3 separate regions of the Homo sapiens genome follow, and all the other regions are reported to be linked to region 2. Evidence: microRNA targets listed by miRTarBase, many of them from high-throughput screens and not tested one by one. Region 2 holds a microRNA gene; each other region holds the end of a gene's coding sequence.

What was found. Region 2 holds the annotated microRNA hsa-miR-181a-5p (AACAUUCAACGCUGUCGGUGAGU, at 1,105-1,127, shown strand). A microRNA usually pairs through its seed, bases 2 to 8, with sites in the 3' UTR of a target mRNA and lowers its output. Matches are read on the target gene's strand: a 7mer-m8 pairs with bases 2 to 8, a 7mer-A1 pairs with bases 2 to 7 and ends in A, and an 8mer does both.
Region 1: the mRNA of STAG1 is a reported target of hsa-miR-181a-5p. Seed matches in the 3' UTR shown: 7mer-m8 at 2,599-2,605.
Region 3: miRTarBase lists CCNQ as a target of hsa-miR-181a-5p. Seed matches in the 3' UTR shown: 7mer-m8 at 1,071-1,077.

The regions. Positions count from the first base shown.
Region 1 is chr3:136,335,463-136,338,680 of GRCh38, forward strand. STAG1 (STAG1 cohesin complex component) reads right to left here. Exons shown (of 34, transcript NM_005862.3): 33 at 2,908-2,988; 34 at 774-2,815. The coding sequence ends at 2,792. Among named protein-coding and RNA genes, the nearest start is that of PCCB, 87 kb to the left of the region's middle.
Region 2 is chr9:124,691,376-124,694,635 of GRCh38, forward strand. MIR181A2 (microRNA 181a-2) reads left to right here and starts at 1,067; the gene lies at 1,067-1,176. The region is part of intron 2 of NR6A1 (nuclear receptor subfamily 6 group A member 1); the gene reads right to left. All of the region lies in intron 1 of MIR181A2HG (MIR181A2 host gene), which reads left to right. It overlaps MIR181B2 (microRNA 181b-2), which reads left to right and starts at 2,335; the gene lies at 2,335-2,423.
Region 3 is chrX:153,585,791-153,589,050 of GRCh38, reverse strand. It overlaps CCNQ (cyclin Q), which reads left to right. Exons shown (of 5, transcript NM_152274.5): 5 at 597-1,126. The coding sequence ends at 686. Among named protein-coding and RNA genes, the nearest start is that of CCNQ, 12 kb to the left of the region's middle.

The DNA of each region.
Region 1 (3,218 bases), not on the chromosome of region 2:
ATGAAGTGTGTAGGGTATGACTTCTTAAAGAAAGAGTGAGGAGGTCTAATGCCAAGAGAAACTTTTTAAGACAGTCTGGCTCTGTTACCTAGATTGGAGTGCAGTAGTGGTGCAATCTTGGCTCACTGCAACAACCTCCACCTTGTGGGCTCAAGCCATCCTCCTACCTTAGCCTCACGAGTAGCTGGTGTGCGCCATCATACGCAGCTAATTTTTGTATTTTTTGTAGAGGAGTTTTACCATGCTACCCAGGCTGGTCTCGAACTCTTGAGCTCAAGTGATCCACTCACCTTGGCCTTCCAAAGTGCTGGGATTACAGGCGTGAGCCACCATGCCTGGCTGAAAACTTCATTTCTGTAGCTGCATTGACTCTATGTGGTCTTCAAAAGGGCACTGCCAGGGTGCAATTATGCATGTAAGCCCAGAGTCTCAAGCCGTGAGGACCCATGCTACAGGCCAGTGGATGGGTGTTCCCTGAATGCCTCATGCAAAACTCAGTTTGCAAGAGACTCCCTCTTAAACCACAGATGACTTGGCCTACACACACTCCAGAGAAATCTAAGGAATGAAAGAAAGTGAGCTATTCCTAAATTCTGCTTTCTTAAAAAAAATTAAAAAGCCAAAACAACAAAACCACCAACTCACTAATAAGGTTAACTTGCTGCCATTTAACAGATTATCAGAAATTGCAAACTCTCTCAAGAGCCACAGGACAGAAAATCATCTCTTTAAAGCCATACCTGGTAGAAACAATAGGATGACTACCACAAGCCTGATTTTGAATAGTTTATTAAAGGAAAGGTGAAGCATCAGTTTCAAATTGTACAAAAGGAAAAAAAACCTCATATTGCAAATGTACAATTTACAGAATTACTAGCAAAACCAATCAAGGAGACACCGAAAATACAAAAATTTGATTGACTTCAAACTGAACTGGAAACCCATTGGAGTAGATATTTAGCCTTTTTGTGTGGCATGGTAGTCTACAATTCTGTCAGCATCTGTTTTCCATACAAGACTGTCACGCAAAGGATCAATTTGTGCATGTGCCAGGGCACCTCATGGCTTGCTCCCTGGCCAAAACCACAGGCAGGCAGGGCTGGGGTGGACAGTCCAGTCATTCCTGCACCTTCACTTCCAGTGAAGCCCACAATTCTGGGAGAAAGTGAGGCCCCAGCTCCCCTAACTGGAGCCCAAGAATTGCTGAATTAGCAGAGAAGATATTTTTGGTGACCAGGTTTTTTTCAGAACTGTACAAATGTTGAGAAAAATGTTTTGTGTCTTTACTAAAAGGATGAATAAAATCATCCATCATCATCTTGCTTTCCCGCACAAAAGATGATCACTGGGTGTGCAGAATTTTAAAAAATGTTTTTCGTATTTGATAAAAAGGGAAAGCCTCATGATTCTGTTGCAGCTACTTTAAAAACCAGCCCAGAAACAGCTGTGGATGAATTGGTTTGGAAATTCTGAGGCTTACTTTAGAAATCAGAAAGGAAGAGAGAGACTAAGTGGGGTTTTTAAAACAATAGCAGCAAGTCATAAAAGTCTAGGCAGAATGTAACTCTAAACCATTGTAGACTGTCCTGAAGATTCATAATTTCTTTCCCCAAAAGAATTATTCTTAATATGCACATTTAACACTGAAATGTAGCTGTAATTCAAGGTAAGCTTAGGAACTTCACCCTCTAAGCACAGACTTCTATGCAGCACATACTTCTATAATCAGTAAACTTAATTCACAAAATTAGCGCATAAGGGTATTAAGTGCATGGGAAGTAAACACAGTTATGTTACACTTAAAATTACTTTTGAATGATTGATAAAGGATTTCTTCATGATTGATTATCTTAAGAAAATGGAAGTCTGTGTAACTTGAATTTGGCAGGGCATGAAATAAGTGGTAAAAACAGCAAACTGATAACTTGAGAATCATTTTCGTTTTACTGAGAATACTTTATTTGCTGGTAGAAGTTGCTAAAAATGCACAGAACAAATACCAATAGAAAATGCACTGTATTTGAATCTCCCTAGTCTATATAAAATGAACGGTGTACAGCATCTGTTGGAAAAATGGCTGCATGGACATTTCTTATTTTATGCCCACTTATAAATAAAAATAAACCTTTTATTCAAGAGTATATAAAATCTGGGAATTCATATCCATATCCACAGAGGGTGTGTGGTTTTTGGCAGAGATGTACTATGTCAGAATTTCATCTTAGCTTGTCAATGTTCTGCTCCTTCATTATTTGTGTTCCACAAAGGTCAACCAAATCCAGTGAACTCCAAAACACTCTTCGCAATTAGGATGAGCTGCTTACTCATAGGTTTAATAAAAATGGTTAGCTTTTAAAACATAAAAAGGCAAAATGTTAAAACGGTTTTTAAATTGTACAACAGGAAAATAAAGTTAAAAATATGTTTTTTTTTACTCAATGTTGAGTTTTCATAAAACAGGTGTATAACAGTGTTTATCTTGACAGCTGTTTTAAAAATTTAAAATTTCTTCCTCCCTCCAGAAAAACACACACATCTGTATTGGGATAAGTCCAATAGTAGGACACAAATGATTTTCAGGTCAGTCTTTCTGAGTTGACATTCACCAACATTCCCTTGGGTAATTTACATGCTCCTCTTCTGTCACTGCAAAAAGGGATTGACCTTAATCATTTGATTAAAAAACAAATCAGATCACATCAAAAGTGTTTTTCCCCATACAAGCTATCACAGTATATAGGCCTCTAGCTCTAAATAATAGAGTTCCAGATTTGTAAATTTTCTTCAGACTTCAGAACATAGGCATTCCAAATCCCTAGAAAAATGATGAGAAACATAATTATTAATTTCATGCATAAACAGGACCCAGGAACCATAAATAAAAAGCAGTAATAATTTGACATTTACTGAATCATCTTCTATGATAGCTGCAGAGTCAAAGAAGTCTGGCCTTAGCTCAGCTCTCTCTCGCCGATTTCTTGATGGAGGCTGGAAAGAGAAATCGGTTTCTTAATTTTTTTCTGAGATCATTAAGACAATGAATTGTGATAATCAGCTAATATTTCTGACAGTATCATAAATATATGGAACTGCTAAGAGTCAATTTTGAAAGGAAGAAGAGAATCTGGCTTTTATATGAAATAGATTTTTTAAAAACAAACAGTACTTTTGGCTTTTAATTATGTTGGCAAAAACAAGGCACAAAACTTTCAAACTAT
Region 2 (3,260 bases):
TAGTATTTAAACCTAAAGCAAATAGTAATAACTATCCCCATTTAGAGATTAACTTCAATTCAGCAGGCAGTTCTGTAAGCCCTTTTCCTATTAAGTATTCCTAGATCTGTCCCATTGTAAATCACATATTCTGAAGATTCATATTATTAATTCATTTTTCAAATTTTTCATCACAGACATTCAACAGAATCAAAAATAACCACTATGTCCTATAATGTACTGGTATCGTTTCAGCCAGAACAAATGACATCTGACATTTTAGTTACACTCTGTGTTCTCAACTAAGAAGAAATGCAAGCTTTACATTAGGTGGTGGGTTTTTGGTTTATTTTTTGCTTTTTCAATATGGAAAATAGCTTGTGGACTATCACTAACACCTCTGTGGTAACTTAGTAATGCAGGATCTCAGCAAAGGAGATCATCAATCATGGAGGTCGAGGTTTTTCATCTTCCCCTATGACCTCACCTATAGACCTACCTGCTATTATTATAGGCAAACAAGTAGAAGAAATTTACATGTTTGACTTTGGCTCTGCAGTGATGGGTCTACTCCTAGATATCAACAGTAAGTTCTGTAGTAGACAACAGAAGCAGTATGATGAGTGAGCACTGGAAACATGAAGTCCAGTATTCAAATTCTGGCTTATAACCTTGGCTCCTGGCAATGTAACTTTAGGCAAATCACTTCAAGTTTTTTCATCAGGAAAATGTGGGTTGTTGAGAATTTAATGAGATAAAATATACAAATCCTAGTATATAGCAGATCCCCAATATATGTTAATCTCTTACCCTTGTTAACAATTAAAATACTACTGCAAAATCAGGTATTTTACATTTTTAGAATCACAAAATAATACCATTCAAAGACATTTTCTCAGACATTCATTTGAGTCTGCTTGTACAAATTACTGCACAGTCTATCCCACAGTTCATTAGTTCTCTGCTGCACACAAATTGATTTTATAATTTAAATACTCTCGACTTGAAACCCAGAGAGGAATGTAAGAGCATCCATCAGCGGTGGTCTCACTGCTCACTGGTTCTTGGGATGTGGATGGGAGAATGAAGAAGGGCTATCAGGCCAGCCTTCAGAGGACTCCAAGGAACATTCAACGCTGTCGGTGAGTTTGGGATTTGAAAAAACCACTGACCGTTGACTGTACCTTGGGGTCCTTACAGACGACACTACATTTCCTGAAGCAAAAGAGCAAGCTGTACCTTCACATGTCACATGAGTTCACCAGAAATGGTCCTGCAATCCCCCAAATGTGGTCCAGTGAATTTTATTCCTACTGCTCACTGTTCCTTGCTTTCTGTTGTGTGTTTTATTATTATTTGTTTGTTTTTACAAAAAAAGTGTTTCATTTCAACAAGGTAAGGAGCAGTCCATGATGATATCTAATGTACCTACATGTCTCCTAGATATGCACCATTCTGGTGAGAAACAGGACGTAGCAAGTAAAAATTTATTAAAAATACGTATTTTGTTTTGGAATAAAATCCAGTTAAATAATTACTCCCATTTCTCCCACATCCTCTCAAAATTTTTAATTAGGGGCAAGGGGAGGATTTAATAAGCAAAAATAGCACAAAATTATCCAATTGTGACAGTTCTTATCACATTTCACTTTGAATTATAGTTAATATGGTTAATTTTTGATATCCCAGTTAGAGCATGAGCTATTGCCTTACTAGTGCCCACATATCCCCACATATGCTTATTTAAATGTTTGCTAAATTCAAGCAAAAACTTAGCCCTGGAGTCAGTCAGATCTGGGATGAATCTTGGCTCAAGCCCTTAACTAGTTATTTGACCCCCTAAGCAAGTGTCTCAGTTTTCTCACATATAAAACAGAGGCTAAGAGTACCTATCATGGAGTTTTGAGACTCAATGAGATAATATATAAGGTGCTTTGTACCATTACTAGCCCACAGCAAATGCTCAATATATGTAAGCTGTTATTATTAAACTCCAACATAATCTGCTAATTTACCTCAAAAAAGCACTCATACTTCTCAGTTCAAAACAAAGAGGAAAAGCAGGTCCCTCAGCTGTGGTTTACAGGTACTAATATGCAAGCACTGCCTGTGTGGCGCAGTGCTACCTGTGAGGTTCTCCAAGCACTCCTTCCTTCTCTGAACCACAGCTTCCTCATCTGCAATAACCTCCCAGCTCCAATGTCAATGTTATGGACACCTGTGTGGGCCCTCAATCATGCAGATGGCTGGTTACTAAGGGAGAAGCCAGACACACAGACTTCAAAGAACTGAGATGGAAAAGAAGAGCCAGGAGTCAGCCAGGGAGGGCAAAGGCAACCCCACCAACTGAAAACACTGATGGCTGCACTCAACATTCATTGCTGTCGGTGGGTTTGAGTCTGAATCAACTCACTGATCAATGAATGCAAACTGCGGACCAAACAACCCAAAGGAAGCAAAAGCATGTGCAGAGAGTCGCCTGAGTGCAGCAGCTACTGCTGTGAGTGGGAGCTGCTACTATTTCCAAAACACTAGCTAAAGCTTTTCTTGTTCTCCTTGGTTCTAACATGGAGTAAGTTCTCTAAATTCCTAGTACTTTTCTCCTTTTTCAATAGTCTAGATTTAAGGAAATGATATTTTATAGGAAGAATTAAATACATATCTGGATATCACATCACATTTTAAAAATCAGTACATTCAGAATTTCTAAACAGAATCATATGCTTATTATTTAGAAATTCAAATACAAAAATATACAAAGTAAAAATTGAAAATCCCTTCAATCATCATCTGCAATCCATTTCCTCGGAGGAAAACATGTATAATTATAATAAACTTATTAAGATAATAAATATCATAACTAGAATTTATTTTATATCCTTGAAGACCTTTATCCATACATACACAGATAAATAGCTGTAATTTTGCATGTTTTGGGGGGAGAGTGGCTTAGACAAAAATAAGCTCATTTTTACCTATTGTTCTATAATCTATTTTGTTATTCAGCTATATATCATAGACTTCCACAACAGTCTTTTATGTACTCGTCATTCTTTTAAATGGCTATATAGTATGACTTAATATGAATGTTCTGGTTATTATTCAGATGTACATCAATATTCTCTTTTGACAAAAACTATGAGGCTCATTCATTCTAACCTTTGCAAACCATGTCCCTCAAACAGGAAAAACACCTAAGTGAGATAGAAGATGTACATTTTTCTTAACAAAAAATTTAAATGTAGTATCAACTCTCTAAATCCTGTAACATGAGATAAGCC
Region 3 (3,260 bases), not on the chromosome of region 2:
GAGGCCAGACCTGCCTTTGGAAGGTACAGGGTGTGGACCCCAGCCTGTGGCGTGGCCCTGGGCTGCAACCCTCCTGCCATGGGCCCCGAGGATGTCCTTCGCCGTCTTGCGAGTGCTCCTGCACGTGGCGGTCCGGACTGTGGAGTGGGTCCACATGCTCCCCAGGGGCTGGGTTAGGGTAGGCGTGGGGTCCGGGTACTTAGCCTGCCTGTGGCTGCACAGGGACTGCCACCCTCTCCTCTTGCCAGTGTCCGCAGAGACCCTGGACCTGAGGGAGTCCCGGGCAGGAGGCAGGAGCCTGTGCTCTGGACCCAGCTGTGTTACCAATTCCCTGTATGACGTTGGACAGGTCCCCTCCTCTCTGAGTCAGAAGATCACCAAGGCCTGTTCCATCTGGAATGTTCTCGGCCTTGTAAAGTGTTTGGCCTCAACGGGCTGGAATTAAACTGGCTTTGCAGGAGAGCTACTGTCTTCCTACATAGCCAAGTCCCTGTGCCCCTCCCCTGCCCATGAAATGTGATTCTCTGCTTAGTGACAGGTGCCTTGTTTAACATAGAGGGAGTCTAACTGGAACCTGTTTTCCTTCTTCTTTCTAGGTGTTTAATGACGACCTTACCAAGCCAATCATTGATAATATTGTGTCTGATCTCATTCAGATTTATACCATGGACACAGAGATCCCCTAAGGTCCTGGCCCAGGCCTGCCCAAAGAGAAGCCCAGGATGGTCGGCTGCCTGGGGACATTGTCACCACGTCGCCATGACGGCTGGTCCCCACAGGACCAGCTGGGAGGACTGGTTGTGCTGCTGGAGAAGGGCTGGAGAAGGCAATGGCATGCTGCCGCTTTGCCAGTCCCTAGAAGTCGCGGTGCAGGTGATGGTGGGAGCCGCGCCTCCAGCGGGCAGGCCGGGAGTGTACTGTGTGCAGCTGACCCAAGGCAGCCACATCTGCGTTTGTCCTTTGAGAGGACTTTGACTACAATACAGGCATGACATCAATGAAAGGAAAGTCATGAAATCGATGAGACTGAATCCCTACGGATTTCTTAAAAGCCAGATTTGTAGGGAGAATGAATGTGCAACGTGGCTGAAATCTATTTTGTGTAATAAAAGGTGATACAAGTCAATAGGGACCCTTGGCTTTGCTCTGCAGCGCATGCTGCACATGGGGGTGTGAGGGGCCCTCAGAGACTGGTTCCCTCAGAGTGCTCTCAGGTAGAGTGTGTCCCAGCCATCAGGCGGCAGGCCTGGGGTTAGGGAGGATCACTTGCATTCAGAAAAGTGAGTCCTGATCGAACGTAACTAAAAGTAATGCGTTTTTAAATGTCAAGGTAGCCAGTCTGGATGGGGAGGCTGGAGAAACTCAGAGCTGTGGCCCCCAGCACCCCTCTGACTCCTTGCTCAAAAGCCAGTGGGTAAGAAATAGACCAGTCCAGGAGGCGCTCTCTAGGTCCCCTTTCAGGCTAGACGTACGTTCAGCACGTGGCGTAGGGCCGGGGGACTGGTAGGTTTACACAGGAGGGTGGGCTCCGGCTCCTGCAGGTGTGGGGGCAGGGGTGATGCAGGTCAGGGCAGAGTCTTGCTTGACTTTACAGAGCGACTATGTTCAGTGTCTTCAGAATGAAGTATCTGAGCAGATGTCACAGGCTTCCCTGGTGGGCAGGCTTGCCCTGGCTGACCTGCCCTTCATTTCGTAGAACTCCCCTGTGGGTTTTGATGATTAACTTCTCCTAAATGTGGGCTCCTGCTTTACCTGTTGTAAGCCTTTTAAGACTAATCAGTCAAAGAACCACATTTATTGAGCAGCTACTGTGTGCCCAGTCCTTGCCTGCGCTCTGGCAACCAGGTGAAACTCCTTGCTTATGTGGAGGGAGAGATGGGAAACAGAATGAGAATGTGTAGCGTGGTAGTGAAAAGAGGAAGGAAGAGAAGGTGGCCAGGGCTCAGAAGAATTAATATGGTAAAAATGGCCCTCATGGCCAGGTGTGGTAGCTCACACCTGTAATCCCAGCACTTTGGGAGGCCGAAGTGGGTGGATCATCTGAGTTCAGGAGTTTGTAGACCAGCCTGGCCAACATGGCAAAACCCCGTCTTTACTAAAAATACAAAAATTAGCCGGACATGGTGGTGGATGCCTGTAATCTCAGCTACTTGGGAGGCTGAGGCAGGAGAATCGCTTGAACCTGGGAGGCGGAGGTTGCAGTGAGCCGAGATTGCGCCACCATACTCCAGCCTGGGCGACAGACGGAGACTCTTATCTTTTTTTTTTTTTTAAAAAAAGAAAATATTCACAAACTCTACGTCTGACAAGGGGTTAATATCCAGAATATATAAGGAATTTAGACAACAGAATAACAACCTAATTTAAAAATGGGCAATAGACCTAAACAGACATTTCTCCAAAGAAGACGTACAAGTCGCCAACAGGTATGTGAAAAAATTGCTCAACGTCAGGAATCAGGGAAATGCAAATCAAAACCACATCGAGGATATCACCTCACTTCAATTAGAATGGCTACTATCAAACAAAAGAAAACAAGCTTTGGTGAGGATGTGGAGAAAAGGGAACATTCACACACTACTGGTGGGATATACTATAGCCACTATGGAAAACAGTATGGATATTCCTCAAACATTTTAAAAATAGGCAGGGGATGGTGGCTCAGGCCTGTCATCCCAGCTCTTTGGGAAGCGGAAGTGGGAGGATCATTTGAGCCCAAGAGTTCAAGACCAGCTTGGGCAACATATGAAGACCTCTTGTCTATTAAAAAAAAAAAAATTAGGCCAGGCACTGTGGCTTATGCCTGTATTCCCAGCACTTTGGGAGGCCGAGGCAGGAGGATGGCTTGAGCTCAGCAGTTCGAGACAAGACAAGACAAAAGACAAGACACAGGAAAGACAAGACAAGACAAAAGACAAGACACAGGAAAGACAAGACAAGACACATTTTAGCATTCAAATACATTTTAACATTCCAAGAAACGAAGAGTGGGTTCTGGAGTTAGACCACTTGGCTGTGAAGGCTGGTTCTATCACCCGTGTATCTTGGGCTAATTCATCCACCCCTTTTTCTTTTCTTTTTTCTTTTCCCCTTCCTTCCTTCCCTCCCTCCCTCCCTTTCTTCTTTTCTCCTTCCCTCCCTCCCTCCCTCCCTCCCCACTTCTTTTCTCTTTTCTCTTTTCTTTTCTCTCTTTTGCAATCATGGCTCACCACAGCCTTGGCCTCCTGGGCTCATTCGATCCTCCCACCTCAGCCTTCTGA